Linked DNA regions of Homo sapiens: regions 2 and 3 are each linked to region 1. Evidence: fine-mapped expression QTL. A gene starts in region 1. Each other region holds a variant in brackets. All regions are shown on one strand. Distances are between the middles of the regions.

Evidence for each region. PIP is the estimated chance that this variant, and not a neighbour inherited with it, causes the effect. A credible set is the group of variants that fine-mapping cannot tell apart.
Region 2: its variant is the best candidate, but not a certain one, in a credible set for the expression of TUFM in fetal neocortex (Walker 2019, PIP 0.87).
Region 3: its variant is the best candidate, but not a certain one, in a credible set for the expression of TUFM in lung (TOPMed, PIP 0.70).

What each region holds. Positions count from the first base shown.
Region 1 is chr16:28,841,161-28,850,933 of GRCh38, reverse strand. TUFM (Tu translation elongation factor, mitochondrial) reads left to right here and starts at 4,586. Exons shown (of 10, transcript NM_003321.5): 1 at 4,586-4,716; 2 at 4,828-5,022; 3 at 5,454-5,620; 4 at 5,879-5,983; 5 at 6,072-6,236; 6 at 6,383-6,515; 7 at 6,600-6,704; 8 at 6,833-6,984; 9 at 7,079-7,198; 10 at 7,786-8,523. The coding sequence starts at 4,665. The coding sequence ends at 7,959. It overlaps MIR4721 (microRNA 4721), which reads left to right and starts at 6,927; the gene lies at 6,927-7,015. It also overlaps a transcript of SH2B1 not described here. RefSeq lists silencers at 639-839, 8,934-9,091 and an enhancer at 4,235-4,724.
Region 2 is chr16:28,866,389-28,876,161 of GRCh38, reverse strand. SH2B1 (SH2B adaptor protein 1) reads right to left here. Exons shown (of 8, transcript NM_001387430.1): 1 at 9,129-9,773; 2 at 8,730-8,831; 3 at 7,065-7,156; 4 at 6,779-6,954; 5 at 4,179-4,382; 6 at 3,761-3,972; 7 at 3,457-3,628; 8 at 1,957-2,715. The coding sequence ends at 2,342. Among named protein-coding and RNA genes, the nearest start is that of ATP2A1, 7.2 kb to the left of the region's middle. RefSeq lists enhancers at 1,208-1,708, 1,709-2,209. The variant ACACG/G (reference allele first, on the strand shown) is at 5,164.
Region 3 is chr16:28,806,175-28,815,947 of GRCh38, reverse strand. It overlaps the pseudogene RPS15AP33. Among named protein-coding and RNA genes, the nearest start is that of ATXN2L, 12 kb to the left of the region's middle. The variant C/T (reference allele first, on the strand shown) is at 3,514.

The DNA.
Region 1 (9,773 bases):
CAAAGTGCTGGGATTACAGGCATGAGCCACCACGTCCGGCCCTTTTTAATTTCCTTTTTTTTTTTTTTTTTCAGATGGAGTCTCGCTCACTCTGTCGCCCAGGCTGGAGTGCAGTGGCGCACTCTCGGCTCACTGCAACCTCTGCCTCCTGGGTTCAAGCGATTCTCCTGTTTCAGCCTCCCAAGTAGCTGGGACTACAGGCACGTGCCACCACTCCTGGCTAATTTTTTGTATTTTTAGTAGAGGTGGGGTTTCACCATATTAGCCATGATGGTCTTGATCTCCTGACCTCATGATCCGCCCACCTTAGCGTCCCAAAGTTCTGGGATTACAGGCGTGAGCCACCACACCTGGCCCTTTTTGTTTTAGAGACGTGGTCTGGCACTGTCACACAGGCTGGAGTGCAGTGGTGCTATCATTGCTCACTGCAGCCTCAAACTCCTGGGTTCAAGTGATCTTCCTGTCTCAGCCTCCCCAGTAACTGGGATTATACAAGCATGTGCTGCCATATCTGGCAAATTTTTTTATTTTTATGTTTGTAGAGACAAGGTCTCACTATTTTGCCCAGGCTGGTCTCGAACTCCTGGTCTCAAGCAATAGCAGAAGTGGTTTCAGTGCCCCCGGCAGTAGCTATAACAGACGAGTTGATATCCTGGCATGTAGCATTTGATGGTAGTGACAGTAACAGCAGTTTTCTTATCAGGTCAAATCAGTTCTATGGCTTGGAATTAGTTCTCCAGTTTGCCCCACAATTCTGTAAGCTGCCTAATACCCTTAACAAATCCCTCCTCTGCTTAAGCCAGCCAATGTAAAATCTGTTATCTGTAAGTCAAGACTTCTGACTGAGCCATTCACTAATACAGAGGATGCTACGGTCAACAGCTCTAGAAAAAATTTTCTCTGGGCTCTTTTCCGAACACCGTGTTTCTCAAACTCTAGCCATTCATTCACTACCTTCCAAAAAATTTGCCATATATTCATACCACACATAATAGTTTTTATTTTATTTTTGAGACAGAGTCTCGCTCTGTCACCCAGGCTGGAGTACAATGGCGTGATATCGGCTCACTGCAACCTCCGCCTCCTGGGTTCAAGCGATTCTCCTGCTTCAGCCTCCTGAGTAGCTGAGACTACAGGCGTGCACCATGCCCAGGTAATTTTGTATTTTTAGTAAAGACGGGATTTCACCATGTTGGCCAGGCTGGTCTCGAACTCCTGGCCTCAAGTGATCCGCCTGCCTCGACCTCCCAAAGTGCTGGGATTATAGGTGTGAGCCATTGTGCCCAGTGCATCCATAATATTATCTACCAAACAATATTCTTTTAAGTTGATCTGTTTTTTTAAAAACTTGATTATTATGCCAGTTTTTTTTCAAGCTAATACACATTAAAATAAATATAGCACCACAAAAATATAAACCATTAATTCAAATACCACCCCCAAAAACTCATAACTTGCTAGTGGCCAATAGTGTCTTAGGATAAATTCCTAGGAGTACAGTGACTTAGGTACAGAGTAGAAACAGAAAACCCTTTTAGGCTGGGCACAGTGGCTCATGCCTGTAATCCCAGCATTTTGAGAGGCCAAGGTGGGCAGACGGCTTGGGCCCCGGTATTGGGAGACCAGCCTGGCCAACATGGCGAAACCCCATCTCTACAAAAAATACAAAAATTAGCCAGGTGTGGTGGTGTATGCTTGTAATCCCAGCTATTTGGGAGGCTGAGGTAGATTGAGCTTGGGAGGCTGAAGCTGCAGTGAGCTGTGACTGCCCTACTATGCTCCAGCCTAGGAGACCCAGCAAGGCTCTGTCAAAAAAACAAAAACAAAATCTGTTTATACTACACATGATACCAGCCTTTCCTAAGCAGAACTGATTAACTGGAGGGCCAGGAAGAGAGAAGTCTTAGCAAGTTCCTCACTTTATCTGAGCAGTAAAATGAGAGTTAAATTATAGTACAGTCTGGCTGGGCATGGTGGCTCACACCTATAATCCCAGCATTTTGGGAGGCCAAGGTGGGTGGATCACTTGAGGTCAGGAGTTCAAGACCAGCCTGGCCAATATGGTGAAACCCCGTCTCTATTAAAAATACAAAAATTAGCTGGGCGTGGTGGCAGGCGCCTGTAATCCCAGCTACTCGGGAGGCTGAGGCAGGAGAATCGCTTGAACCTGGGAGATGGAGGTTGCAGTGAGCCGAGATCGTGTCACTGCACTCCAGCTGGGCAACAGAGTGTGACTCTGTCTCAAAAAAAAAAAAAAAAAAAAAAGGACAGTGCGGTGTGCACACTTTTTGGGGTTTAGTGGTGGTGGATTCCTTAATCACCCTGACCGTCAGTTTTCACACCTGCAAAATGGAGGAAATAATAGTTCCTACTACCCAGGGTAGCACTGGGAGCGCTGATTGTGAAACAATAGGAATGCCTGAACATCATAAAGCTCTAGTTCAGAGTTTCCTAAACTCCTCTGAGTTTTCATTTGAAAAAAAATTTTTTTTTTTGGAGACGGAGTCTCGCTGTGTCGCCCAGGGTGGAGTGCAGTGGCACCATCTCAGCTCACTGCAAGCTCCGCCTCCCGGGTGCAAACAATTATCCTGCCTCAGCCTCCTGAGTAGCTGGTACTACAGGTGCACACTGCCACGCCCAGCTAATTTTTTGTATTTTAGTAGAGACAGAGTTTCACCGTGTTGCCCAGGCTGTTCTCGAACTCCTGAACTCAAGCAATCCACCCGCCCGGCCTCCCAAAGTGCTAGGATTACAGGTGTGAGCCACCACGCCTGGCCAAAATATTTTTATAGAGATGGGGTCTTTCTTGGCTGAGCGTGGTAGCTCACGCCTGTAGTCCCAGCACTTTGGGAGGCCACAATGGGCGGATCACTTGAGGTCTGGAGTTCGAGAGCCGTCTGGCCAACGAGGTGAAACCCCATCTGTACTAAAAATACTAAAATTAGCCAGGCGTGGTGGCACATGCCTGTAGTCCCAGCTACTCAGGAGGCTGAGGTGGGAGAATTGCTTCAACCCAGGAGGTGGAGGTTGCAGTGAGCCGAGATCGCCCCATTGCACTCCAGCCTGGGCGACAGAGTGAGACTCTGTCTCCAAAAAAAAAAAAAAAAAAAAAAAAAAGATGGGGTCTTTCTCTGTCACTCACGGTGGGGTGCAGTGTCATGATCATACCTCACCACAGCCTTGAACTCCTGAGCTCAGGCGATCCTCCTGCCTCGGCCTCCTGAGTAGGAGGGGCTATAGCTGCATGCTACTGTGCCTGGCTAATTTTAAATTTTTTTTTGTAGAGATAGGGTCTCCTAATCTGCCCAGGCTGGTCTTGAACTCCTGGCTTCAAACCGTCCTCCCACCTCAGCCTCCCAAACTGCTGGGACTATAGGCTGGCACTATAGCCACCGTGCCCAGCCTCTTCTCAGTTTTAGAAGAGTGTTTGTTATATAGCTTCCCAGTCTGTGCATAGACCCCACGGAATCATAACCTCCAGGGGAGGAATTAGGGAATCTATTTGAAACAAACACTGTCCACTGAGTCTCAGGATCTGATGAGTTCCGAAACATTAGCCAGGGTTAAGCAGCCATAATTAACACTTTGGAGTGCCCTGTGGAAGCTGCCATGAGATGATGGATGTGAAAGTTAAGGGACATTGACTACCCTTGCACCCATTCATTCAACATTCACTGCATGCTCCACCCTGTTAGGTGCTGGGGACACCGACAGATTAAAGGAGACTCAGGCTCCCCTTAAAGGCTCCCCTAGCTGGCTCCTCATCCTTGGCTCCTCATCTGCAAAATTAGATGGGTGGGGCGATGCCCAACGGAACTGCTCCTTAGGCTGCTGAGGGACTACAGGGGTGGGCAGCGAAGCTGTCTGTCTTGTGGGCTCTGGCCCTGTGAGGTCTAGCAGTACAGGGTCCCCGCAAGCTGCCTGACCTCACAGGGCCCAACACTGACTCCTACCCAGTTCATCTCCTCTCAGGGCTAGATGTCAGGCTCTCCCTATGAAGTGGATACTACTATTCCCATTTTACAGATTAGAAAACAAAGTCTCAGCGAAGAGGGAGGTCACACTTCACCCCATCCCCGAAAGGCGTCCAGGACCTGGTCCCCTACCTCCAGCTGCGGCAGAGGCGGCCAGATATCTCGCAAGACCCGCGTAGCGAGTCGGACTCCGGGGGACTCGGGGTCTCTCTCTGCCGGGCCCAGGAGGAGGTTCCTGAGCAGTCGGAGCCGCAGCTGCCTCCCGGAGCCCGAGCCCCTCCCTCCGGGTCCGGCCTAGCCCGCCTGACTCCCACTCTGATCACCTCCACAGCCCGCCGACCTGAGAACTACTACGCCCATGAGCCTTCGCGGCGCCGGTGATTTAGGGGACGCTCCTCAGTGCCCCCTGCGACCGCCAGAGAGAACTACGTTGCCCCTCAGCCCGAGAGGCGCGAGTGGTGGAAAACCTCTCCATCATACTCCGCCCTCGAGACACCAGCCCCCTCCATGACGTCTTCAGCCGCGCGCCCGACGTCGGCTGAGACGGCCATAGACACTGGCGGCTAGAGGGGCCCGGACTTGCCCTCCCAGCTCTAACTTCCGCCGGAAGTGCCTTCCAGCCGCAGGCGCCCTTCTTCTTCTGTGCGCTCGGGCTCCTGGTCCCGGCTCCCCGGTTACCGGGGCGCGAGTATGACCACAATGGCGGCCGCCACCCTGCTGCGCGCGACGCCCCACTTCAGCGGTGAGTGGTCAGGGAGGGCGATGGCGGCCCAGGAACACTTTGGGGGAGTGGTAGGTGGCTGGGTTCGGTCTGACCCCTTCCCTGCCTGACTCCAAGCTTCGGTCCCGGCAGGTCTCGCCGCCGGCCGGACCTTCCTGCTGCAGGGTCTGTTGCGGCTGCTGAAAGCCCCGGCATTGCCTCTCTTGTGCCGCGGCCTGGCCGTGGAGGCCAAGAAGACTTACGTGCGCGACAAGCCACATGTGAATGTGGGTACCATCGGCCATGTGGACCACGGGAAGACCACGCTGACTGCAGCCATCACGAAGAGTGAGTGGGGTTGGGGCGTCCAGCAGCGCCCTATCTACTGATGGGACCTGGAGCCAGGGAGGCAAGGCCAGCAGAGTGTCTGCTGGAGGAGTTTACTGTGGCCCCAAGAGCCCGAATTTGTGCGACAGGTGGATTGGGAGATGCAAGAGACAAATTTCTCCTGAACAGGAAGAACTTTGTGATCCACCAATGGCTTGGGGATCACAAAGTCGTGGGGAATGCTCTGCAAGCAGAGGCTGTACCCTAAAGAAGTCACAGGGCAGACCCTTAAGGCCCTCTAACATTTCTTTCTGACCCACAGTTCTCTCTGCTGGAAGAGTTAGAGATTGGAGGAGGTTATGTATTTAGGTGGGAGGGTTCAGGGGCGTGGTCTAAGCTCTGCCTCTAGCACTGGAACTTTAGCTGAGAGGTGTGTTCTTTTCCTCCTTTAGTTCTAGCTGAGGGAGGTGGGGCTAAGTTCAAGAAGTACGAGGAGATTGACAATGCCCCGGAGGAGCGAGCTCGGGGTATCACCATCAATGCGGCTCATGTGGAGTATAGCACTGCCGCCCGCCACTACGCCCACACAGACTGCCCGGGTCATGCAGATTATGTTAAGGTGAGGGTTGCTGGGACACTGGAGACAGGGCCAGAAGCTGCCTCTTGTCAGGATAAATGTTAGGCTTGTGGGGAGGAGATTAAGATATTCAGTGTTTGGGTATGAGATGGCAGGTTTGTGGTCTTGGCCACGCAGAATGGGTGGTGAGGAGATGGTAGAGAAAGGTGGGCCTGAGTTTCTAACTGCTACACTTGGCTATATGGATGTGAACTGAAGAGCTCGTTGAACTTGGCTGTTTCCTTTCCTTCTCCTCTCCAGAATATGATCACAGGCACTGCACCCCTCGACGGCTGCATCCTGGTGGTAGCAGCCAATGACGGCCCCATGCCCCAGACCCGAGAGCACTTATTACTGGCCAGACAGGTACTCAGAGCCTGGGTAAGGATGCAAAAGGGAAGAGTGGGGAGTTGGGCCCCTCTGTATATTGTCCCTGTCTCTCTGGCATCTACAGATTGGGGTGGAGCATGTGGTGGTGTATGTGAACAAGGCTGACGCTGTCCAGGACTCTGAGATGGTGGAACTGGTGGAACTGGAGATCCGGGAGCTGCTCACCGAGTTTGGCTATAAAGGGGAGGAGACCCCAGTCATCGTAGGCTCTGCTCTCTGTGCCCTTGAGGTGAACGCGGGGTCAGGCAGGGCAGCTGCTGCAGAGGGTGGGGCTGGATGGGCACCCAGAGCTCTGCTTTGTGTCTGGGAAGTGGCTCTTGATAATCGAGGGAAGTAGAATGGGGATTTCAGAGTCCTGGCACTTCCCCTCAACAGGGTCGGGACCCTGAGTTAGGCCTGAAGTCTGTGCAGAAGCTACTGGATGCTGTGGACACTTACATCCCAGTGCCCGCCCGGGACCTGGAGAAGCCTTTCCTGCTGCCTGTGGAGGCGGTGTACTCCGTCCCTGGTGAGGACTCTGTCTGTTCCCACGCACTCTCTCTAGCAGAAGCCTAGCTCGGGGTCCCTGATATCCTGTCTTATTCCCTCCCAGGCCGTGGCACCGTGGTGACAGGTACACTAGAGCGTGGCATTTTAAAGAAGGGAGACGAGTGTGAGCTCCTAGGACATAGCAAGAACATCCGCACTGTGGTGACAGGTTTGGGAAGCCAGTCTGGAGAGCAGGGCCTGGCTGAAGGGTGGCCTTACCCCGGCAGATCCCTTGTGCCTTCCCTCTGTCTCACATTCGCCTTCCTTCTCCCTGCTCCTTTTCCCTTTCCGTCCTAGGCATTGAGATGTTCCACAAGAGCCTGGAGAGGGCCGAGGCCGGAGATAACCTCGGGGCCCTGGTCCGAGGCTTGAAGCGGGAGGACTTGCGGCGGGGCCTGGTCATGGTCAAGCCAGGTTCCATCAAGCCCCACCAGAAGGTGGAGGCCCAGGTGAGGGCTCCAGGTGACGGTGGGCAGGGTTGAGCCAAGCTCTCCCCAGCCTCCAGCCAAGCCCAGCTCACCGTCATTGCTTGCTCTCCTCCAGGTTTACATCCTCAGCAAGGAGGAAGGTGGCCGCCACAAGCCCTTTGTGTCCCACTTCATGCCTGTCATGTTCTCCCTGACTTGGGACATGGCCTGTCGGATTATCCTGCCCCCAGAGAAGGTACGGTGGGTGGGAGGAATGTAGGGTGGAGGGGGGACTTTTTATATTACCTTTGCTTCACTCATAGTTCCAAAGATACACTGTGACAACCCGAGTGGCTTTATTTCCTTAGGTGGAAAGGGGCTGCTTGCCGCTGCTAGCCAACAGAAGGGGCATGGCCCATGGACTTAGGGGCGGGAGTCCTCATCCAGTGTGCCCTAAGCTGAAGCAGGTTAAAAGTTTAGCTCTGCCAGCATGTACCCACAGAAAGATTTCCTAGAAAAGGTCTCTTCTTTTTGAGCGTTTCATTATATATGAAGGCTTAAGAAGTTCTGTGACCAAGAAACCTGCATAACCCACAACTTCCTAGACATTTTTTTCTCAAGAACATACCTTAGGAACACTCATCACTGGTCTCTTTTATGTTTTCCTGTCTCAATATGCTGTTTGCATCTGCCTGACAGCCTGGGATGGATGAAGCTGTCCCCAGGCAGAACCATTCCCCTGCTGCATTCTCCCATGACTCTTAACCTCCGAGGTAGCCAAAAAAGACTTAAGGAATGAAGGCACCCTGGAGGCCACGCATGATCCTTCTCTTCCTACTCTAGGAGCTTGCCATGCCCGGGGAGGACCTGAAGTTCAACCTAATCTTGCGGCAGCCAATGATCTTAGAGAAAGGCCAGCGTTTCACCCTGCGAGATGGCAACCGGACTATTGGCACCGGTCTAGTCACCAACACGCTGGCCATGACTGAGGAGGAGAAGAATATCAAATGGGGTTGAGTGTGCAGATCTCTGCTCAGCTTCCCTTGCGTTTAAGGCCTGCCCTAGCCAGGGCTCCCTCCTGCTTCCAGTACCCTCTCATGGCATAGGCTGCAACCCAGCAGAGGGCAGCTAGATGGACATTTCCCCTGCTCGGAAGGGTTGGCCTGCCTGGCTGGGGAGGTCAGTAAACTTTGAATAGTAAGCCAGCCTGTGTCCTGTGTCCTTTGTGCAAATTGGAGAGGATAGGGGAGGACAAAAAGGGTGTTGAACCCCAGACAGATGGGGAGCTTGTGAGATCCCAGAGCAGTTTTAACGGATAAATCAAGTCCAGTGAGCTTAGTGATTGCCTAGACACAGTAGGATGCCGTTATTCAGCCTCCTGGGAGATAGTGGGAAAGAATGTTCTATCGCTCTGGAGCCAGCATGGCTTCAGCTCAGGTGCCAAACCCATCTTGTTTCCTCGGAATACTAAGTGAATGTCTAGCATCCATTCACATTCTGTGGGAACAGGGACTGGACAGGCATACCTCAGATGCTGTAGGTTTGCTTCCAGACTACCACAATAAAGCAGGTCACAAATTTTTTGATTTCTCAGTGAAGTTATGTTTATATTATAGTTGACCCTTGAACAATGCAGGGGTTAGGGGTGTCAGCCCTCCTCCATGCAGCCACAAATCCACATATAACTTGTTTTTGAGATGGGGCCAGCTTTGTGCAGTGGCAGTATCATAGCCAATGACTCCATGATGACTTGAAATATAATCAGCATTGGCAATTTTCGACGGTCTCTATGGGGAGGCTGAACAAAGGGAAAAAAAGAGATATAGGGTCTCACTGTCACCCAGGCTGGGTGCGGTGGCACCATCCTAGCTCACTGCAGCCTTGGACTCCTGGGCTCAACCTTGGTCTCCCCAACTGCTGGGATTAGAGGTGTAAGCTACCGTGTCTGGCTCCTCACATATAACTTGACTCCCCCAAAATGTAACTAGTAACCTGCTGCTGGCCAGAAGCCTCGCTGATAGCATACAAACACATACTTTGTGTGTTATATGTATTATATACTGTATTCTTAAAACTAGAGAGTGGCCGGGCGCGGTGGCTCACGCCTGTAATCCCAGCACTTTGGGAGATTGAGGTGGGTGGATCACAAGGTCAGGAGTTCGAGACCAGCCTGGCCAACATGGTGAAACCCTGTCTCTACTAAAAATACAAAAAAATTAGCCGGGTGTGGTGGCACATGCCTGTAATTCCAGCTACTCAGGAGGCTGAGGCAGGAGAATTGCTTGAATCCAGGAGGCGGAGGTTGCGGTGAGCTGAGATCGCGCCACTGCACTCCAGCCTGGGTGACAGAGCGAGACTCTATCTCAAAAAAAAACAAAAAAACAATAAAACTAGAGAAGGTGTTAAGAAAATCATAAGGAAAATATATTCACTATCAAGTGGAAGTGGATCATCATAAAGGCCCTCATTGTCTTCACGTTTCTTAGGAGGAGGCCAAAGGGGAGACAGGCAGACTCGGTGTAACTTGTATTTGAAAAAATTCACATGTAAGTGGATCTGTGCAGTTTGAACCCCAATCACTTAAGGGTCAACTTATTAAGTGTGTAATGTCTAAGAAAACTTGATTTAAAAATACTTGAGCCGAGGCCAGGCACGGTGGCTCACGCCTGTAATCCCAGCACTTTGGGAGGCCAAGGCAGGCAGATCACCTGAGGTCAGGAGTTCGAGACCAGCCTGGCCATTATGATGAAACCCCGTCTCTACTAAAAATACAAAAATTAGCCAGGCGTAGTGGCAGGCGCCTGTAATTCCAGCTACTTGGGAGGCTGAGG
Region 2 (9,773 bases), 25 kb before region 1:
GGAGGCTGAGCCAGAGGCGCCCTCGGGGATCCCTTCCCACAGGGGTCTCCACGCCCAGGGATGGAAAGTGATCCTCCTGTCACACCTGAGGGCTGGAGCTAAAAGCATGGGACACAGAGACACCCTGGCCAGTCCCTGATGAGTGCAGAACTTCGGTTTAACCATCTGTAAAGAAAGGCTTAGAGGGAAAGTCTCTCAGGCCCCAACAGCCAAGACATGCTGGTCTGAGGAGTGGGTGGGTGTCCTCGTCCCCCTCCCCTGCCCATCTTTGGAAGGCAGGTCCCTGAAGGCTGGCAGGGCTGGGGGAGGGGGAGCCTCAGAGCACCAGTTGCTGCTGGAAGATTAGGAGGGGATCAGGCCCTGCTTACCTCGGGGCACCACAGCCTTCACTGGCCATCTCACTAAGAACCCAGCACCCGGCTCTCCAAAGCTTCCCCCACTTTCAAGGCCGGTCCTATCCCCAGTCTCCTGAGGCCAAGGTTTGGGGAGCCCCAGAAATTAGAGCAAGCAGGAGAGCCAGCAGGCTTCCCTCGGCTAGCCCCCCGCCTGGGTGGCCTGGAAGCCCAGCTGTCTCCTGTCCATCTCCCTACAGGACACAAGGCCCAGAATAGCAAGGTCATGAGCGTGGGTAGGGCCTCCTGGAGGTGGGGGCTGAAGCTGAGGGGCATGAGGGTGTGGGCTCCTTGCTGCCTGGGCGGGGAGTGAGGCAGGATGCTGAAAGGCGGAGCTGGACAGTGGGGAAGGGAGAAGGCCGAGCTCAGCGGGTGGGATTCTTCAGCCCCAGGCCCCTCCTTGTTGGCACCCACTACCCCCAGAGCTGGGAAGCCCAGGGGTGCCCTCTGTTGGAGGGCACAGCCACAGATCAGGAAGACTGATTCCAAGAGCAGAGCCTGTGTTTTACGGGGTGGAGGGGTGTGCCACAATGGGGGTGGTGTTATAAACTCAAATGCCCACAGGGCCAGGCCCTCCCAGGGAGCAAAGTGAGCTGGTGGGGATGGGGCAGATGTGGAAGTGGACCCACATCACTGGATCTTCTGATTTTTAAGAGAAGCCAGTGATTTTTTTTTTTTTTTTTTTTTTTTTAGACAGAGTCTCGCTCTGTTGCCCAGGTTGGAGTGCAATGGTGCGATCTTGGCTCACAGCAACCTCCACCTCCTGGGCTCAAGCAATTCTCCTACCTTAGCCTCCTGAGTAGCTGGTATTACAGGCGCGCACCACCACACCCGGCTAATTTTTTGTATTTTTAGTAGAGACGGGGTTTCTCCACATTGGTCAGCCTGGTCTCAAACTCCTGACCTCAGGTGATCCACCCACGTCGGCCTCCCAAAGTGCTGGGATTACAGGCGTGAGCCACCACACCTGGCCTGTGATCTGAATTTTTAATGTGAAACTCAAATGGACACCATGTCCAGGCCAAGCAAACCATGTCAGCAGCTCTGACTCAAGATGAAACTTCACATGTCACAGATGAGGATGCTCAGGCCCGGCGTGGCTACACCTTGCCCAGGCCAGTGAGTGGCAAGGCCAGGACAGAAGCTAGTGCCCTCTGCCATCCCTCCAGCCTGGCTTTGAGAAGGGGGCCATTGGGCCCCTCTGCGGCTACCCTGTGACTGCCACGTTCAATCTCTTCCAGCACAGCCACCGTGCCTCCCATCTCTCACTGCCAGCTCTCTCTAGGGTACAAAGCCATAACTCAGGAAGGGCCGCTGGAGATCACCATGCCTGCCATTCACAGCACTGTCCCATGACAAAAACTCGCAGGAGACCCCAAGAGCATCATTTAGTGCTCCACGAACAAGGCTGTCAGACACAGGGATGGCTCCGAAAGCACAGCACTGCAGAATGATGGGGACTGGCCTGGGCCAGCCCTCTGGCCTGTGGGCACTGAGTGGGCTGCCTTCCCAACCCAACTGTCCCCAGTCCCCACAGCAAACAATGGCCATAGCCATCACGATAGAACCGAGATAAACCTTTTTATTTATTTATGCTTCTCCATTTTGTTTAAAACAACAACAACAACCACCTTAATGTAACTGACAGCCCTTCCCCCTCACCCTGCCTCGGGCTGGGGGTAGTTAATGGGGAAATGGCCCCCAGGGTGGGGCTGACCAGAAGAGCCCCTCAAGGAGCTCATGGAGCCCAAATCCCCTGCCCTGGGGAGGGGACCTGTAGTGTGTGACGGGAGCCTCTCCCGAGCCTCTGCTTGTACCATCAAAGATGCCCTTGGCCAACAAGGGTCAGGAAGCATGGGGGAGGGATTTCGGCCTCCTCTGTCCCTACCCAGCCCAATCTCACGAGCAGGGCTGGGGGGTTTAAAAAGGGTGGAGCGGGTGGGGTTGGCTCACACGAAGGAGTACTGGTTGTTAATGGCCCTGGGGTGGCCCCCTTCCTCTCCATCACCCCCTAGTGGTGACTGCTGCAGCTGCACCATTGGGGGCACCCCCGCGTCCCCACCAGACCCAGCGCCCTGGGCCTCTGAGCCTGGGGCTATGGCCTCTTCCAATTCAACCACGGGGACCAGCTCAACCACGGGGACCAGCTCTTCCGGGACCCCTCCACCGCCCGCTTTCTCTTTCTCTTGCCTCTCTTTGGCTGCTGCGGCTGCTGCTGCCGCCACTTCTGGCGCCCTCGACGCCTCTTCTGCCCCAGGCTGTGGGGGATCTGTCCATGAAGGGGGTTCAGGGGGCTGGGGTGGGTCATGGGAGGTGGTCGGTTCTGGATAGGAATGGTAAGAAAACAGACTGATTGTGGAGGCAGGTGAGCTCCTGCCGTGGCCTCCCCTTCACTCAGCCCCCCAGGAGCGTGGCTGTCTCCCCACATCCCATCTCCTGAGCAACCCCCCATCCATGGAAGATGGATCATGGGCGGTGGTGAGAGGAGGACCACACTTACACACAGTCACTCGCTCCGAAGGGCATGAGGGTGCAGGAGGCATCGGGGTGGCATCCATCTCCCTCGCACACCCCCGCATGGCTCCCAGCCTGCTCCCGGCCTGGGGGGAGGGGCAACGTGGGGACAGATGGGACGGTGGGGCAGGGGAAAGGGAGAGATCAGACAGGGACATGAGACATTGAGGGAGGAGGGAAGGGGATCAGACCGAGTGTCCCCGGGAAGGGCAGGCCCAAGGCCAGGCTGCGACGGAGGGCAAAGACGAGGCCAGGATGGGTCCAGGAGACAGACAGACAATGGAACAGAGGATCCGATGGAATGGGGATGCGCCCGCCCACCTCTCAGCTGCCGCCCCGGCTCCGGCCAGGAGCCTTCTGCCTTCCTGTGTCCTATCAGCGCATTTCTTTCCCTTCCAAACCCCGAGGCACAACAGCCTCCTCTACCCTGCTCTCCCAAGCAAAGCTTCTCCTTGTGATAGTCCCCCCTCCCCGCCCCATCTTTCTGGCACACACACCTCACTTCTTGGGTGCACGGGCACCTCCTCCCCTGCAGACCTGCTCTGCTCACCCTGCTGTCGCTGGGAGGATGGGACATAGCTGACAAGGACAACATCACTGGAGCCTCCCGACTCCAAAGGGATGGGGTGCACCCGGAAGTGCTCGAGCATATCGAAAATGGACTGGAACCACAGGTGCTGGACCCGGCACTGACCCTCCTCGTTCAGCGACAAACGCAGGTGCTGAGGGCGGGATGGGGGAGGTGAGGTAGGAGGCAAAGGCCCTGCCAGGTACAAACCCCCTCCCCCGGCAGTGCTCCCCCACCCCACTGCCAACTATGCACAGAACAGAGCCTTTCCCACAGGGTGGCTCACCTTGGCCTTGCCCTGGAAGTTGAAGGTGAGGACGTATTCACCCCGCCTTGTCTCACTCTGGCGCACCAGGAAGACACCGTGGGAGCCAGTGCCGCCAGTCAGCACCAACTGTGCAGCCTTGAGCCGAGAGAGCATCCCGTGGAACCAAGGATACCCTGAGAGGGGCTGGTCCCCCTCACCGCCCTCTGGCTCCCCCTGGAACAGGAAGGACCCTTCAGGAAGGAGAGAGGGAGGGAAACCGGGGTGTCAGGGCAGCCTCCCCCATCCTGGGAGAAAAAAGCCTTGCCTTCCCCTCAAGGCGCCTGCTCCCCACATGCGTCCCCAACTCCCCTGGGCCAGCTCCCTCGGGATCCCAGGAGAGGTGGTCAGGAAGGTAGGCACCCAGGCCTGGAGACATGCACACTCACACCTCCGGTACCTGTGGCTGTTTCCGGAGTGTCCAAGGGAGGGTAGGGGGCTGAGAGGGGATGAACTGTCCCTGTTGGGGGTCCCTCTTCAATGGGGATGCGGGGGGGCAACTCTGGGGGAAGCAGTTCCATCGAGTCAAAATGGGAGGCGGCAATGGAGGCAGAGCTGGGGGAGATGGATGCCGAGGGGCGGTCTGAGAGGCCCCCATATGCCCCTGGAAAAAAAAAGGGCAAAGCTGAGAACCCAAGAAATTCCTCTTCTAAAGGACTGTCCTGGGCCCATCTCCTCACCAGCAGTCTACCCTGTGTGCAGTCGCTGGCCAAGATGCCAAACAGCTCTGTGGGTAGTGACCCCTGATGCTTTTACCAATGGCTCCTAACTGATGCTTCCTGCGCTGCTGAGGGACTGCAGAGTTATTGCAAGGAGGTTCTAAAGTCCCAATGTGTCTCCATCTTTTTCTGAATCAACAGCTGAAAGACTGTTGCAGAAACGGAGAGCAGAATGCCTTAAATATATATATACATGTTTTTGTAGAGAAGGGGTCTCGCTATATAATAGCCCAGGTTGGCCCTGAGTTCCTGGACTCAAGTGATCTGCCCACCTCAGCTCTGGGATTACAGGCGTGAGCCACCGTGCCCAGCTGCCTCAAATATTTTGACATTCAAAAGGAGTCCTGGGCCAGGCGCAGTGGCTCACACCTGTAATACCCGCACTTTGGGAGGTTGAGGCAGGAGGATCACTTGAGCTTAGGAGTTCGAGAGCAGCCTGGGCAACATGGTGAAACACCATCTCTACTAAAAATACAAAAATTAGCTGGACGTAGTGGTGCACACCTGTAATCCTAGCTACCTGGGAGGCTGAGGCAGAAGAATTGCTTGAACCCGGGAGGCAGAGGTTGCAGTGAGCCGAGATTGTTTCACTGCACTGCAGCCTGGGCGACAGAGCAAGCCTCTGTCTCAAAACACACACACACACACACACACACACACACACAC[ACACG/G]GAATTCTGGCTGCACACAGTGGCTCACGCCTGTAATCCCAGCCTTTTGGGAGGCTGAGGTGTGAGAATGACTTGAGCCCAGGAGTTCAAGACCAACTTGGGCAACATGGTGAGACCCCATCTCTTACAAAAAATAAAAAATTAGCTAGGTGTGGTGGTGGCACACGCCTGTGGTCCCAGCACCTTAAGCCGCTGACGCAGGAAGATGGCTTGAGCCAGGGAGGTCAAGGCTGCAGGAAGCTGTGACTGCACCACTGCACTCCAGCCTGGGAGACATAACAAGACCCTATCTCAAAAACAAAAACACAAACAATAATTTTTTAAAAATAAAAAAATTAAACACACAAACAAAAAAAAAAAGGTGTCCTTTGTTGAACTATAGGACAAAGCCCCTAACTCTTAAGAGGCATCAAAGATGCTCCTTCTATTACTCCCCCAACCCACACCAACTTGAGCTTTACCTTACCTTGTATTCATGTCTCTTCCACTTTAACCCAATTTCCCATCCAATTTGTCCCCATATCCTGGGCCCTCCCCGCAGGTCTCTGCTCTTGCCCTTCACGTCCCCAGGCATGTCCTCTCCTCTCCTCGGCGTCGCAGTCCCTGTCTCTCCCACCTTCCCCTGCTCTCTTCCTCCTGAGCTCCCAACGTGATTCCTGCTTGTGCTGCTCAGGGGACACTAAGCTTTCTATAGGGAGTGATGTCAACCCAGCTGAAAGCCTCTAGAGAACAAGGAGCTCATCTCAGGCATCCTAGCTACCCCATCCTGGCCCGGGACACAGAGCAGGGCCAGGTATGCACTAGGGCCATCCTCCAAGTCTGTCCAACAGCAGGCCACTGCCTACACAAATGTCATAGGCAGGCAGTGCTCAGAAGACAGGCGTGTGGTGCACAGACAGCATGGCTTGGGAAACAGGGTGGCGCAGCCCCTGTCTTCCTCAGTGACCCTCAGGTGTCCTCTCCCTGGTCTTAGCTACTAAGATCTGATGAGATGCAAGGTCCACTCTAGATCTAAGATTCCATGATTCATGTGTTCATTCACTGAATACAGCCTGTGTGCTAGGCACTGTGCAGCTGGAACTCAGAACAGAGGGTCAGGAGAAAAGGCTATAGTGGAGGCCGAATCTAGAAATATGAGTTGGGACTGGGTGACACATCTTTGTGTGTTTGTGTGTGTGGGTCGGGTATGTGTGTTTGGTCAGACCAAAAAGTACAGAGTCAAGAGAAAACGTGATTGCCCCTGACAGACACAGAGATGCAGAGTAAGAACAAAACAAAGATTTCTACAAAGTGTTCCAGAAGCTTGGAGAAAACCACCATTATTTCCAGCCAGAGCGGTGGCTGGCAGGACGCTGACTGAAAAAGTGGCGAGGCTGGGTGCAGAAGCCTGGCTAAGGTTTGCTTGGGGCCTGCGTGGGGTCATGATTATTCTAAACAGCAAACTGTGGCTGTGTTCAGGGATCAAAGACCAACATTTGGTGGGGTTGGGGTAGGGCATCTGGAAAACAGGGATGGGGGCACAGTGGCGTCTGGAGAGGGCATGGCGCCTGACAGCAGGGGCCCCGCATGGCAGGTTCCGAGGCTCCGAGCTCTCTAAGGCTCCACCCTTACCCTGCGACAGGCGGTCATTGCTCTCGCTGGGTCCAAGCAGCAGGTCCTGGCTGGGTAGACTCTCCGAGTGATTCAGGCAGGACAGCTCCAGGCTGTCTGTGTTCTCCCTTGTAAGGAATGAGGTCCCAGGGGCCAGAGGGAGGGTCATGGGGCGGGGACTGGTAGCAGGGCAGGGTCTGCAGAGACAGGGAAGATGGTGCTGGGAGGAAAGTCACCAGGTGAGAGGCGCAAGGCTGCTCCCCAACCCCACTCTATGTCCCTTAGCGACAGAAGTCAGGCTTCTCACCCTGGGCTCAGGCATTCTTGGATGTCAGACACCCAGGCCTTCACATGCTGGGCATCCACTGTCTCCATGATATACTCGGATGGACCTTCCACCTACAGAGATGAGACGACGCCTCAGCTGGGGCAGGGGCAGGGAGGAGGCTTAATCCATGCCTAATGAGAACAATGTATGCAGGCTGTCTACAAACAAGATGCATTCGAATTCTCTCTGGAGGCCGGGTACAGAGGCTCACACCTGTAATCCCAGCACCTCTGGAGGATCACTTGAGCCCAGGAGTTGGACCAGTCTGGGCAACATAGTGAGAACCTGTCTCTAAAAAAATTGAAAAATAAAATAAGGCGAGGCCGGGTACGATGGCTCACACCTGTAATCCCAGCACTTTGAGAGGCCAAGGAGGGTGGATCACAAGGTCAAGAGTTCGAGACCAACATGACCAATGTGGTGAAACCCTGTCTCTACTAAAAACAAAAATTAGCCAGGCGTGGTGGCAGGCGCCTGTAGTCCCAGCTACTCGAGAGGCTGAGACAGGAGAATCGCTTGAACCCGGGAGGCGGAGGTTGCAGTGAGCCAAGATCATGCCACTTCAACTCCAGCCTGGGAGACAGAGTAAAATGCCGTCTCAAAAATATAAAAAATAAAAATAAAATAAAATAAAATAGGCCAGGCGCAGTGGCTCACGCCTATAATCCCAGCACTTTGGGAGGCTGAGGCGGGCAAATCACGAGGTCAGGAGATCGAGACCATCCTAGCTAACTTGGTGAAACCCCGTCTCTACTAAAAATACAAAAAAATTATCCGGGCGTGGTGGCGGACGCCAGTAGTCCCAGCTACTCGGGAGGCTGAGGCAGGAAAATGGCATGAACCCGGGAGGTGGAGCTTGCAGTGAGTCGAGATCGCGCCACTGCACTCCAGCCTGGGCGACAGAGCGAGACTCTGTCTCAAAAAAAATAAATAAATAATAAAATAAAATAAGGCCAGGCACAGTGGCTCACGCCTGTGATCCCAACACTTTGGGAGGCCAAGTGGGGTGGATCACTTGAGGCCAGTTTGAGACCAGCCTGCCGAACATGGCAAAACCCATTTCTGCTAAACATACAAAAAATTAGCTGGGCATAGTGGTGCATGCCTGTAATCCCAACTACTCAGGAGGCTGAGGCACAAGAATCGCTTGAACCTGGGAGGCAGAGGTTGCAGTGAGCCAAGATCGCGCCGCTGCACTCCAGCCTGTGCGGCAGAGCAAGGCTCTATCTCAAATGTAAGTAAGTAACAAAATTAGCCAGGCATGGTGTCACATGCCTGTAGTCCCAGCTCCTTAGAGGGCTGAGGCAGGACGATCACTTGAGCCCAGGAGTTCGAGGCTACACGAGGCTACAGTGAGCTATGATCAGGTTGCTGCACTCCTGACTTAGAGGGAGACCCTGTCTCTCTAAAACAACCACAACAACAAAAACTCCACAGTTCTCTTTCAAGTGGAGGCATTGTTTTTGAGAGTAAGAACATTTCCCTGTCTTCCGCTATCCCAGAAAAGCTGCAGCCCCAGGGACACACTCTCAAGGCACTGGACACATATATATACCTCCTTTCGGCGACGCCACTTGCTTAAATGCGCTGAGGGCTTTCTCCTTAACACAAGCACTGCCGGCGGCTGGGAAGTTGAATTCCTACCTTAACCACAAACGTGTTCTCCCGGTCAGGCATCTCCAGGGCTGTGGTTGTCCGGACGTCTGTGATAGAAGAGCAGGGGATGCTGAGTCGGGGCCGAGAGGCCTAAGTCAGGAGAAAGAAACAGATCTGGGTGTTTGGTTTCCAAAGACCACTCTTCCCCTCCCTCCAGACATTCATCTTTCCTTCTACATCCTCGGGAAGTTAGACAAAAGGCAGTCACACTGCTTTCTCAGTCCTGCCCGCAGCTGCTAACACAGAGCCAAGAGCCAGCTTTACCAACAAAAAGTGAGCGACACCAGGGCCATGGGCTGGTAAACCCCAGAGCTTATCTGCAGGGCTGTGACCACTCTGAGCACTCTCTCACTTGCTCTCAGTCACCCACCCTCCAAGGGGCCTCACCTTGGGTGGTACAAAGAACTCCAGGCGACTTCCTCCTCCTCCTTCTCCTTCACTTCGAAGCAGCAGGCGACACTTCTGCCACTGAGGCTGCCCTCCTCCCCCTGAAGGAGGCCCAGCCACCCCTCCTCCCCGGCCCACTCCGGCTGGGTCAGGGGCTGCCTCCTCAGCCCCCATGAAACTCAGCAGCTCTTCCCTCTGCACCATCCCTGCTCCATCCTTCAAGGCGCCCCCTCCCCGACTGAGTCTCAGCCTCTCAAAACGGTGAGTCCATCTTTCCCCAGGGGACGTTCCATCACTGACCAGTCCCCTACCAACGGTCCCAGCCCCGCCAGAGGAGTTGGAGTTGCTGTTTCCACCTAAGACTGGGGGGCCTGACGAGGTCTCCAGGGGCCCAGCGGAGGAGGGAGGGTCAACGGTCCCCCGCCACTGCAGGATGCCACGGACTGAGCCTCGGACAGAGCGACCCACTGAACGCAGGGAAAAGCGCTTCTTGAGCTTCGGCTTGGAGGAGGTTGTAGAGGAGGAAGAGACTGAGGAAGGGAGGGGGCCGGCCAGGTCCTCAGATGATCGAGAAGGGCCCAGCACAGCCAGGGGCCCACCCACCCTGCAGCTCTCAAGGGACAGGTCATGTGGCGAAATCTCCGC
Region 3 (9,773 bases), 35 kb after region 1:
CCAGCCTGGCCCACATGGTGAAACCCCGTCTCTACTAAAAATACAAAACTCAGCCAGGTGTGGTGGTGGGTGCCTGTAATCCCAGCTACTCGGGAGGCTGAGACAGGAGAATTGCTTAAACCTGGAAGGCAGAGGCTGGGTGTGGTGGCTCACGCCTGTAATCCCAGCACTTTGGGAGGCCAAGGCAGGTGGATCATGAGGTCAGGAGTTCGAGACCAGCCTGACCAACATGGTGAAACCCCCGTCTCTACTTAAAATACAAAAATTAGCCAGGCATGGTGGTGCACGACTGTAATCCCATCTACTCAGGAGGCTGAGGCAGGAGAATCGCTTGAACACGCAAGGTGGAGGTTGCAGTGAGCCGAGATTGCACCATTGCCCTCCAGCCCGGGCAACAGAGAAAGACTGTCTCAAAACAAACAAACAAACAAACAAACAAAAAAACCTGGAAGGCAGAGGTTGCCGTGAGCCAGGATCTCACCACTGCACTCCAGCCTGGGCGACAGAGTGAGACTCCATCTCAAAAAAAAAAAAAAAAGGCTGATCATGGTGGCTCACGCCTGTAACCCCAGCACTTTGGGAGGCTGAGGTGGGCACATCACCTGAGGTTGGGAGTTTGAGACCAGCCTAACCAACATGGAGAAATCTCTACTAAAAATACAAAATTAGTTGGGTGTGGTGGTGCATGCCTTTAATCCCAGCTACTTGGGAGCCTGACGCAGGAGAATCGCTTGAACCCAGAGGCAGAAATTGCAGTGAACCGAGATCGCGCCATTGCACCCCAGACTGGGTGACAAAAGTGAAACTCTGTCTCAAAAAACAAACAAACAAACAAACAAAAAACCCTAAACTAAAATAGTTTAATTTGATTCTTTGTAACACAAAGGATAAACGTAGGAGGTGCTGGATACCACATTTACCCTGATGTGATTATTATGCATTGTGTGCCTGTATCAAAATATCTCATGTACCTTGTAAATATATACACTTACTACGTTCCCACAAAAAATAAAAATAAAAAACTAAAAAAAGAGATAGTTATCTTTCATACAAGGAAAGTTCTCACTGTTTCTCCAAAATGAGACTCACTGTCATAATGATCATTGCACCAGTTGCTGGCTATTTTAATTACTCCTCAAATTAAGTCATAGTCTTGAATGTTCTGCTACCTAAAGGCCGAATTGTAGAGCTAACCTCCAATAACTTGTATAAAAAATAAGAACGAGGAGAGAAAAAAAAGAAAGCTCTTTCCTCCATCTTCCCCTGCCACCAAAATGGCGCATATGACTGTCCCGGCTGATGCTCTCAAGAACATTGACAGGCTGGGTGCTATGGCTCATGCTTGTAATCCCAGCACTTTGGGAGGCTGAGGCAGGCAGATCATGAGGTCAAGAGATCAAGAACATCCTGGCCAACATGGTGAAATCCTGTCTCTACTAAAAATACAAAACTTAGCTGGGCGTGGTGGCGCACGCCTGTAATCCTAGCTACGCGGGAGGCAGGGGCAGGAGAATCGCTTGAACCCGGGAGGCAAAGGTTGCAGTGAGCCGAGATCGCACCATTGCGCTCCAGCCTGGTGAAAGAGGGAGACTCCGTCTCAAAAAGAAAAAAAAAAAAAATAGAACATCAACAATGCCAAAAAGAGAGGCAAAATGCCAGGTACCTATTAGGCCATTCTCCAAAGTCATCGTCCAGTTTCTAACTGTGATGATGAAGCATGGTTACATTGGCGAATTTGAAATCACTGATGATCACACAGCTGGGAAAATTACTGTAAACCTCACAGGCAGGCTAAACGTGGGATCAGCCCCAGATTTGATGTGCAAAGATCTAGAAAAATAGCAGAATGATCTGCTTCCATCCCGCCAGTTTGGTTTCATTGTACTGACCACCTCAGCTGGCATCATGGACCATGAAGAAGCAAGACGAAAACACACAGGAAGGAAAATCCTGGGACTCTTTTTCTAGAGATGTAACACATATTTACAAATAAAATGCCTATGGACCAAATAAAAAAAAAAAGATGGCTAGCATGTACAAATAAAGACATGAATATATTATGCAAAAAGGGGCCAGGTGCGGTGGCTCACGCCTGTAATCTCAGGACTTTGGGAGGCCAAGACGGGCGGATCACTTGAGGTCAGGAGTTTGAGACCAGCCTGGCCAACATGGTGAAACTCCATCTCTACTAAAAAATACAGAAATTAGCCAAGCATGGTGGCACATGCCTGTAATCCCAGCTACTCGGGAGGCTGAGGCAGGAGAATTGCTTGAACCCGGGAGGCAGAGGTTGTAGTGAGCTGAGATTGAGCCACTGAACTCCAGCCTGGGCGACAGAGTGAGAGTCCATCTCAAAAAAAAAAAAAAAAAAAAGCAAAAAGGAAATATGACAAGCTTCCAAGATCCTCAGTTCTGTAATTGGTCATGAGCCCATAATTGGTAACTATGTTCCCTTCTGTAAGTATCCAAAAATCCTTGGGCTCCGATAATTGGGCTTTTTACCTGGTAGGATGAGGCAAAGCTTCATTCCTAAAGGGTCCGCATTGTCCTGCCTTCTTTTAGTTACCACAGTTTTTCAGTAACATGTATTATTGGGCATAGAAATAGTAAGAGGCACTCCAGAGAAACCCGGGATTCAGACACACCATCCTTACCCCCATGGTGTGGCAGCAACCCAGTTTCCTCCTGGTCATAAGGATCAATAACTCCAGCCAGTAGAGTAACCCCATTTTCTGCGGTTGGTTCAGTGGCCTAAAAAGTCCAACATGACCAGGTGGCAGTCTCATTTTCCAATTCAATGGTATCATTGTTGTGTCCCTGATGGAAGAATTCCTCCCTTGAGGACTAAGTCTTCCAAGTCAGCAGAGCTCAAACTTACCAAGACAGGAAACAAAAAATCTGCAAGTGGGTTATTTGGTAGAATAGTGAGACTGGGCGAGGTGGGAGGATGGTTTGAGGGCAGGAGTTTGACAACAGCCTGGGCAACATGGCCAGAACCTGTCCACGCCCCCACCAAACAAAAAGAAATACAAAAATTAGCCAGGTGTGGTGGCACGCACCTGTAGTCCTAGCTACTTGGGAGGCTGAGGCAGGAGGATTGCTCAAGCCCAGAAGTTCAAGGCTGCAGTGAGCCATAATTGCACCACTGTACTCCAGGCTGGGTGACAGAATAAGACTTTGTCTTTAACAAACAATTTTTTGATCAGGTGTGGTGGCTCACACCTGTAATCCCAGCACTATGGGAGGCTGAGACAGTCAGATTACTAGAGGCCAGGAGTTTGAGACCAGCCTGACCAACATGGCGAAACCCCATCTCTACTAAAAATGCAAAAATTAGCTTGGTGGCCAGACGCGGTGGCTCATGCCTGTAATCCCAACACTTTGGGAGGCCAAGGAGGTTGGATCACGAGGTCAGGGGTTCAAGACCAGCCTAACCAACATGGTGAAATCCTCTCTGTACTAAAAATACAAAAATTAGCCTGGCGTGGTGGCGCATGCCTGTAATCCCAGCTA[C/T]TCAGGAGGCTGAGGCAGGAGAATCACTTGAACCCGGGAGGCAGAGGTTGCAGTGAGCCAAGATAGCGCCATTGCACTCCAGCCCCGGGGACAAGAGTGAAACTCCATCTCAAAAAAAAAAAAAATTAGCCAGGCGTCAGCTGGGCACAGTGGCTCACGCCTGTAATCCCAGCACTTTGGGAGGCCGAGATGGGTGGATCACGAGGTCAGGAGATCAAGACCATCCTGGCCAACCTGGTGAAACCCCATAAAAGTACAAAAAAAAAAATTAGCTGGGTGTGGTGGTACGTGCCTGTAAACCCAGCTACTCGGGAGGCTGAGGCACGAGAATCGCTTGAACCCGGGAGGCAGACTGCAGTGAGCCAAGATGGCGCCACTGCATTCCATCCTGGCGACAGAGCGAGACAACATCAAAAAAAAAAAAAAAAAAAAAAATTAGCTAGGCGTGGCGGTCAGCTACTTGGGAGGCTGAGGCACAAGAATCGCTTGAATCCGGAAGGCGGAGATTGCAGTGAGCTATGACACTCCAGCCTGGGCGACAGAGTGAGAGTTTGTCTCAAAAAAAAAAAAAAAAAAACAAACGGCCAGGCACAGTGGCTCACGCCTATAATCCCAGCACTTTGGGAGGCCAAGGCGGGCGGATCATGAGGTCAGGAGATGGACACCATCCTGCTAACACGGTGAAACCCCGTCTCTACTAAAAACACAAAAAAAATTAGCCGGGCGTGGTGGCGGGCGCCTGTAGTCCCAGCTACTCTGGAGGCTGAGGCAGGAGAATGGCGTGAACCTGGGAGGCGGAGCTTGCAGCGAGCCGAGATCGCGCCACTGCACTCCAGCCTGGGCGACAGAGCAAGACTTTGTCTCAAAAAAGAAAAGAAAAGAAAAAAAAACAGCGAGAAGAACGAGATCTAATATCTCTCCTTGATTCTGACTTGTATTCTGGCTATGAGAGAAAAAGCACTACATAATGGTCTCTCATTAAGACAGCAGTGTTGGCCGGGCGAGGTGGCTCACGCCTGCAATCCCAGCACTTTGGGAGGCCAAGGCAGGCGCATCACCCGCGATCAGGAGTTCGAGACCAGCCTGACCAACATGGAGAAATCCTGTCTCTATTAAAATACAAAATTAGCCAGGCGTGGTGGCGCATGCCTGTAATCCTAGCTACTCAGGAGGCTGAGGCAGCAGTATCTCTTGAACCAAGGAGGTGGAGGTTGCAGTGGGCTGAGATCACCCCATTGCGCTCTAGACTGGGCAACAGGAGTGAGACTCTGTCTCAAAAAAAAAAAAAAAAGATAGTAGTGTGCATGCTATAAAAAAGAATCCCAGCCTCTGTGCGGGGTAAAAAACCCAAACCATTCTTTCTGGGGTGTGGTCTCTCAAGTGGTGCCTTAACTGAGTCTTTATTTTTTTGAGATAGAGTCTTGCTCTGTTGCCCAGGCTGGAGGGCAGTGGCATGATCTCGGCTCACTGCAACCTTCACCTCCCAGATTCAAGTGATTCTCCTGCCTCAGCCTCCAGAGTAGCTGGTATTACAGGCATGCGCCACCACGCCTGGCTAATTTTCGTATTTTTAGTGGAGATGGGGTTTTACATGTTGGCCAGGCTGGTCTCAAACTCCTGACCTCAAGTGATTTGGCCTCCCAAAGTGCTGGGATTACAGGTGTAAGCCACCACATCTTGCCTTAACTGAGTCTTTAATACATCATTGCACCACACTAGGGGTCATGTTGATTTCTTCTGCTGTCTAAAGATACCACATGTGAGGCAGCAGCTGCAATTGGAGTCACCATCTAAATGAGTTTCCCATAGTCCACAGTCATTCTCTAAGATCCATCCAACCAGCATATGCCAAACGCCTGCCCATTCAAGTCTTTTTTTTTTGACACAGTTTCGCTCTTTTGCCTAGGCTGGAGTACAGTGGTATGATCTCAGCTCAGAAGCCTCTGCCTCCCAGGTTCAAGCGATTCTTCTGCCTCAGCATCCTGAGTAGCCAGGATTACAGGCACCTGCCACCACACTCGGCTAATTTTTGTACTTTTAGTAGAGATAGGGTTTCACCATGTTGCCCAGGTTGGTCTCGAACTCCTGACGTCAGGTGATCCACCCGCCTCGGCCTCCCAAAATGCTAGGATTACAGGCCTGAGCCACCCCACCTGGCCCCTTGCAAGTCTTTGAGGGTGGCACTAGTCTCTGCGACTCTCCAGGGATGTGATAATGCTTCTGGTTAACTGTCTTTTTAAAATTTTTTTTCTTTGAGACAGAGTCTCCCTCTGTTGCCCAGGCTGGAGTGCAGTAGGATGATCTTGGCTCACTGCAACCTCTGCCTCCTGGGTTCACGCCATTCTCCTGCCTCAGCCTCTTGAGTAGCTAGGACTACAGGTGCCCGCCATCACACCTGGCTAATTTTTTGTATTTGTAGTAGAGATGGGGTTTCACCGTGTTAGCCAGGATGGTCTCAATCTCCTGACCTCGTGATCCGCCTGCCTTGGCCTCCCAAAGTGCTGGGATTACAGGTGTAAGCCACTGCGCCCAGCCCTCTGGTTAACTGTCTTGACAGGAAGTGGAAGTTACAGGGACTTTCCCTTAGCCCTTTCCACCATGATTCTCTCACTCCATGGGTGGGAGAGCCAGTGTGGAGATTTGTCAGTTGCCATAGATGGCTATTCCTATTATACTCTCAGGAATTTGGAAATAACCACAGGGTGGGACCATAGATCAACGGAGCCCTCTGTGAGCTGGGGCTGAGCTAAGACTCCATCTAGCACCTGACCATCTATCTTTAAGCCCCTACTTTTAGTGATGAGCCACAGTGGCATTTTGGATCCTCAGGACTTGGCGTTAATTCAGAGCCAATGTCTAGGAATCCTCAAAAGGTTGGGTATTTTCTTCTCCCTGATGCACACTCTAGTAAACAGGGCATGTTCCTCTCTCAGGGAGAACCAAACTTCTCTCCAATTAAGTGACTCTGGATCTATGCTGACTTAGGTCTAAAATTCAGGCGAGAGACTACAACTCTTCACTATGGCAACTCAACTTAGGTTTTTGGCTACTAGAGCAAGTTTTTTGTTTATTTTTTTGAGATGGAGTCTTGCTCTGTCAACCAGGCAGAAGTACAGTGGTGTGATCTTGGCTCACTGCAACCTCTGCCTCCCGGGCTCAAGCAATTCTCCTCCCTCAGCCTCCCGAGTAGCTGGGATTACAGATGCACGCCACCACACCTGGCTAATTTTTGTATTTTTAGTAGAGATGGGGTTTCACCATGTTGGCCGGGCTGGTCTCGAACTCCTGACCTCAGGTGATCTACCTGCCTCAGCCTCCCAAAGTGCTGGGATTACAGGTGTGAGCCACTGCGCGCAGCTTATTTATTTATTTATTTTTAACAAGGTCTTGCTCTGTTGCTCAGGCTGGAGTGCGCTGGTGCAATTATAGCTCACTGCAGCCTCGGACTCCTGGGCTCAAACCATCCTCCCACCTCAGCCTTCAGAGTAGCTGGGACTACAAGTGTGCACAACCATGCCCAGCTAATTAAAAAAAAAAAACCAAAAAAACCTTTTTTTGGTGGAGACATGGTCTCACAATATTGCCCAAGCTAGTCTCAAACACCTGGCCTCAAGCAAATCTTCCTGCCACAGCCTCCCAAAGTGCTGGGATTACAGGCATAAGCCACTGTGTCCAGCCAGAATTTGATGTTTTGACATATATTTTATATCTATAGCCGTGAAGTCATTACCACAATCATGATAGCGAAGGTATGCATCACGCAGAAGTCTCCTTGTGACTGTAATCTCTCCCACCTGCCTCTCTCTGACCCCTCATACCCAAGAAACCACTGATCTGCTTTCTGTCACGATAGGTTGATTTGCATTTTCTTTTTTTCTTTTTGAGATGGAGTTTTGCTCTTGTCACCCAGGCTGGAGTGCAATGGTGCAGTCTCAGCTCACTGCAACCTCCGCCTCCCAGGTTCAAGCAATTCTCCTGCCTCAGCCTCCCAAGTGGCTGGGATTACAGGCACCCACTACCACACCCAGGTAATTTTTGTATTTTTAGTAGAAACGGGGTTTCACCACATTGGCCAGGCTGGTCTCGAACTCCTGAGCTCAGGTGATCTGCCTACCTCAGACTCCCAAAGTGCTGGGATTATAGGTGTGAGCCACCATGCCTGACCTGATTTGCATTTTCTAGAGCAGGGGTTGGCAAATGTTTTTTGTAAAGGGCCAAATAGTAAATATTTTAGGTGTTGTAGGACAACAGATAAAAAGTAGTATATTATGGCAGGGCACAGTGGCTCACGCCTGTAATTCCAGCACTTTGGGAGGCCGAGGCGGGCAGATCACTTGAGGCCAGGAGTTTGAGACCAGACTGACCAACATGGCAAAACCCAGACTCTACTAAAAATACAAAAATTACCCAGACATGGTGGCGCATGCCTGTAATCCCAGCTACTGGAGAGGCTCAGGCATGTGAATTGCCTGAACTCAGGAGGCAGAGGTGGCAGTGAGCCGAGATCACACCACTGCACTCCACCCTGGGTGACAGAGCGAGACTCTATCTCAGAAAAAAAAAAAAAAAAAAAGAACAAAGTTAGTGTTCCCTATCATCAAAGTCTATGACAAATGTTTATCTGTTAATTCTAATCTGTAATGAGATTTGGCAAAAATAGTTTTTCCTGAAGATAGGTATTGCCAAATACAGATAGCAATCCACAAGCATATGATGTCACGAGCACATTCATCATTTGAAAGGCATTTATAGAATTCTATTTGGACTCTGGCCAGGTGCGGTGGCTCACTTAATCCCAGCACTTTGGGAGGCCGAGGTAGGTGGATCACTCGAGGCCAGGAGTCCCAGACCAGCCTAGGCAACACGGCAAAACCCCCCTCTCTACTGAAAATACAAAAAAATCAGCCAGGCCTGGTGGCGTGTGCCTGTAATTCCAGCTACTTGATGCTCAGTATCATTTGAACCTGGGAGGTAGAAGTTGCAGTGAGCTGAGATGGTGCCACTGCACTCTGGCCTGGGCACCAGAGCAAGACCGTGTCTCAAAAAAAAAAAAAAAAAAAATCTATTTGGATTGGATTTTTCTCTTGCTATCTGCCTTTTAGCATGTCACTACATTATGGTTTAATCACTTGAGATGTGTCTCAATTTCACTGAAGTCCTAAAAATGCTACTGGAACTGCAGTTTGAGATTGGAAATGTAGCTCCTAAAAATCTATATGGGAATGGACATCTTGCTCCTTGTTTTAACTTTGATATTATGGGCTGTGTATAAGGCAGCTTGACATCGCTTGTGATTCAAACAATATACCATCAATGAAGTTACTTTACAGCAGCATACGTTAAACATATACGTGCTGTTTTGCCTTATAATTTTAGGTTGAATTATTAAGAGATATTATCAAAACTGCTTCAAAAGCTAGCTAACAAAGCCTCTCAGTGTTTGATAGCAGTGGTTATGTGTGGTTCTTCTTTGTTGTTGTTGTTGTTGAGACGGAGTCTCGCTCTGTCGCCCAGACTAGAGTGCAGTGGCATGATCTAGGCTCACTGCAACCTCCACCTCCCCAGGTTCAAGCGATTCTCCTGCCTCAGCCTCCGGAGTAGCTGGGACTACAGGTGCCCGCCACCAAGCCTGGCTAATTTTTTGTATTTTTAGTAGAGACGGGGTTTCACCATGTTAGTGAGGATGGTCCTCAAGTGATCTGCCCACCTCGGCCTCCTGAAGTGCTGGTAACACAGGTGTGAGCCACTGCACCTGGCCCGGTTCTTATTTAGAAAAATTTCAGGCCGGGTGCAGTGGCTCACACCTGTAATACCCGCAATCTGGGAGGCCGAAGCAGGTGGATTACCTGAGGTCAGGAGTTCGAGACCAGCCTGGCCAACACAGTGAAACCCCGTCTTTACTAAAAATACAAAAAAAAATTAGCCAGGTGTGGTGGCGGGCACCTGTAATCCCAGCTACTTGGGAGGCTGAAGCAGGAAAATCCCTTGAACTCGGGAGGCAGAGATTGCAGTGAGCTGAGATAGCACCACTGCACTCCAGCCTGGGTGACAGAGTGAGACTCAGTCTCAAACAAAAAAAGAAAAGAAAAGAAAAAAAAATTCAATCTCAGCCCGGAGTTAAAAACCATATGGCTGTGTGTGGTGGCTCATACGTATAACCCCAGCACTTTGGGAGGCTGACACAGGCAGATTACTTGAGCCCAGGAGTTCAAGACCAGCCCGGGCAACATGGCAAAACCCTGTCTCTGCAAAAAATGCAA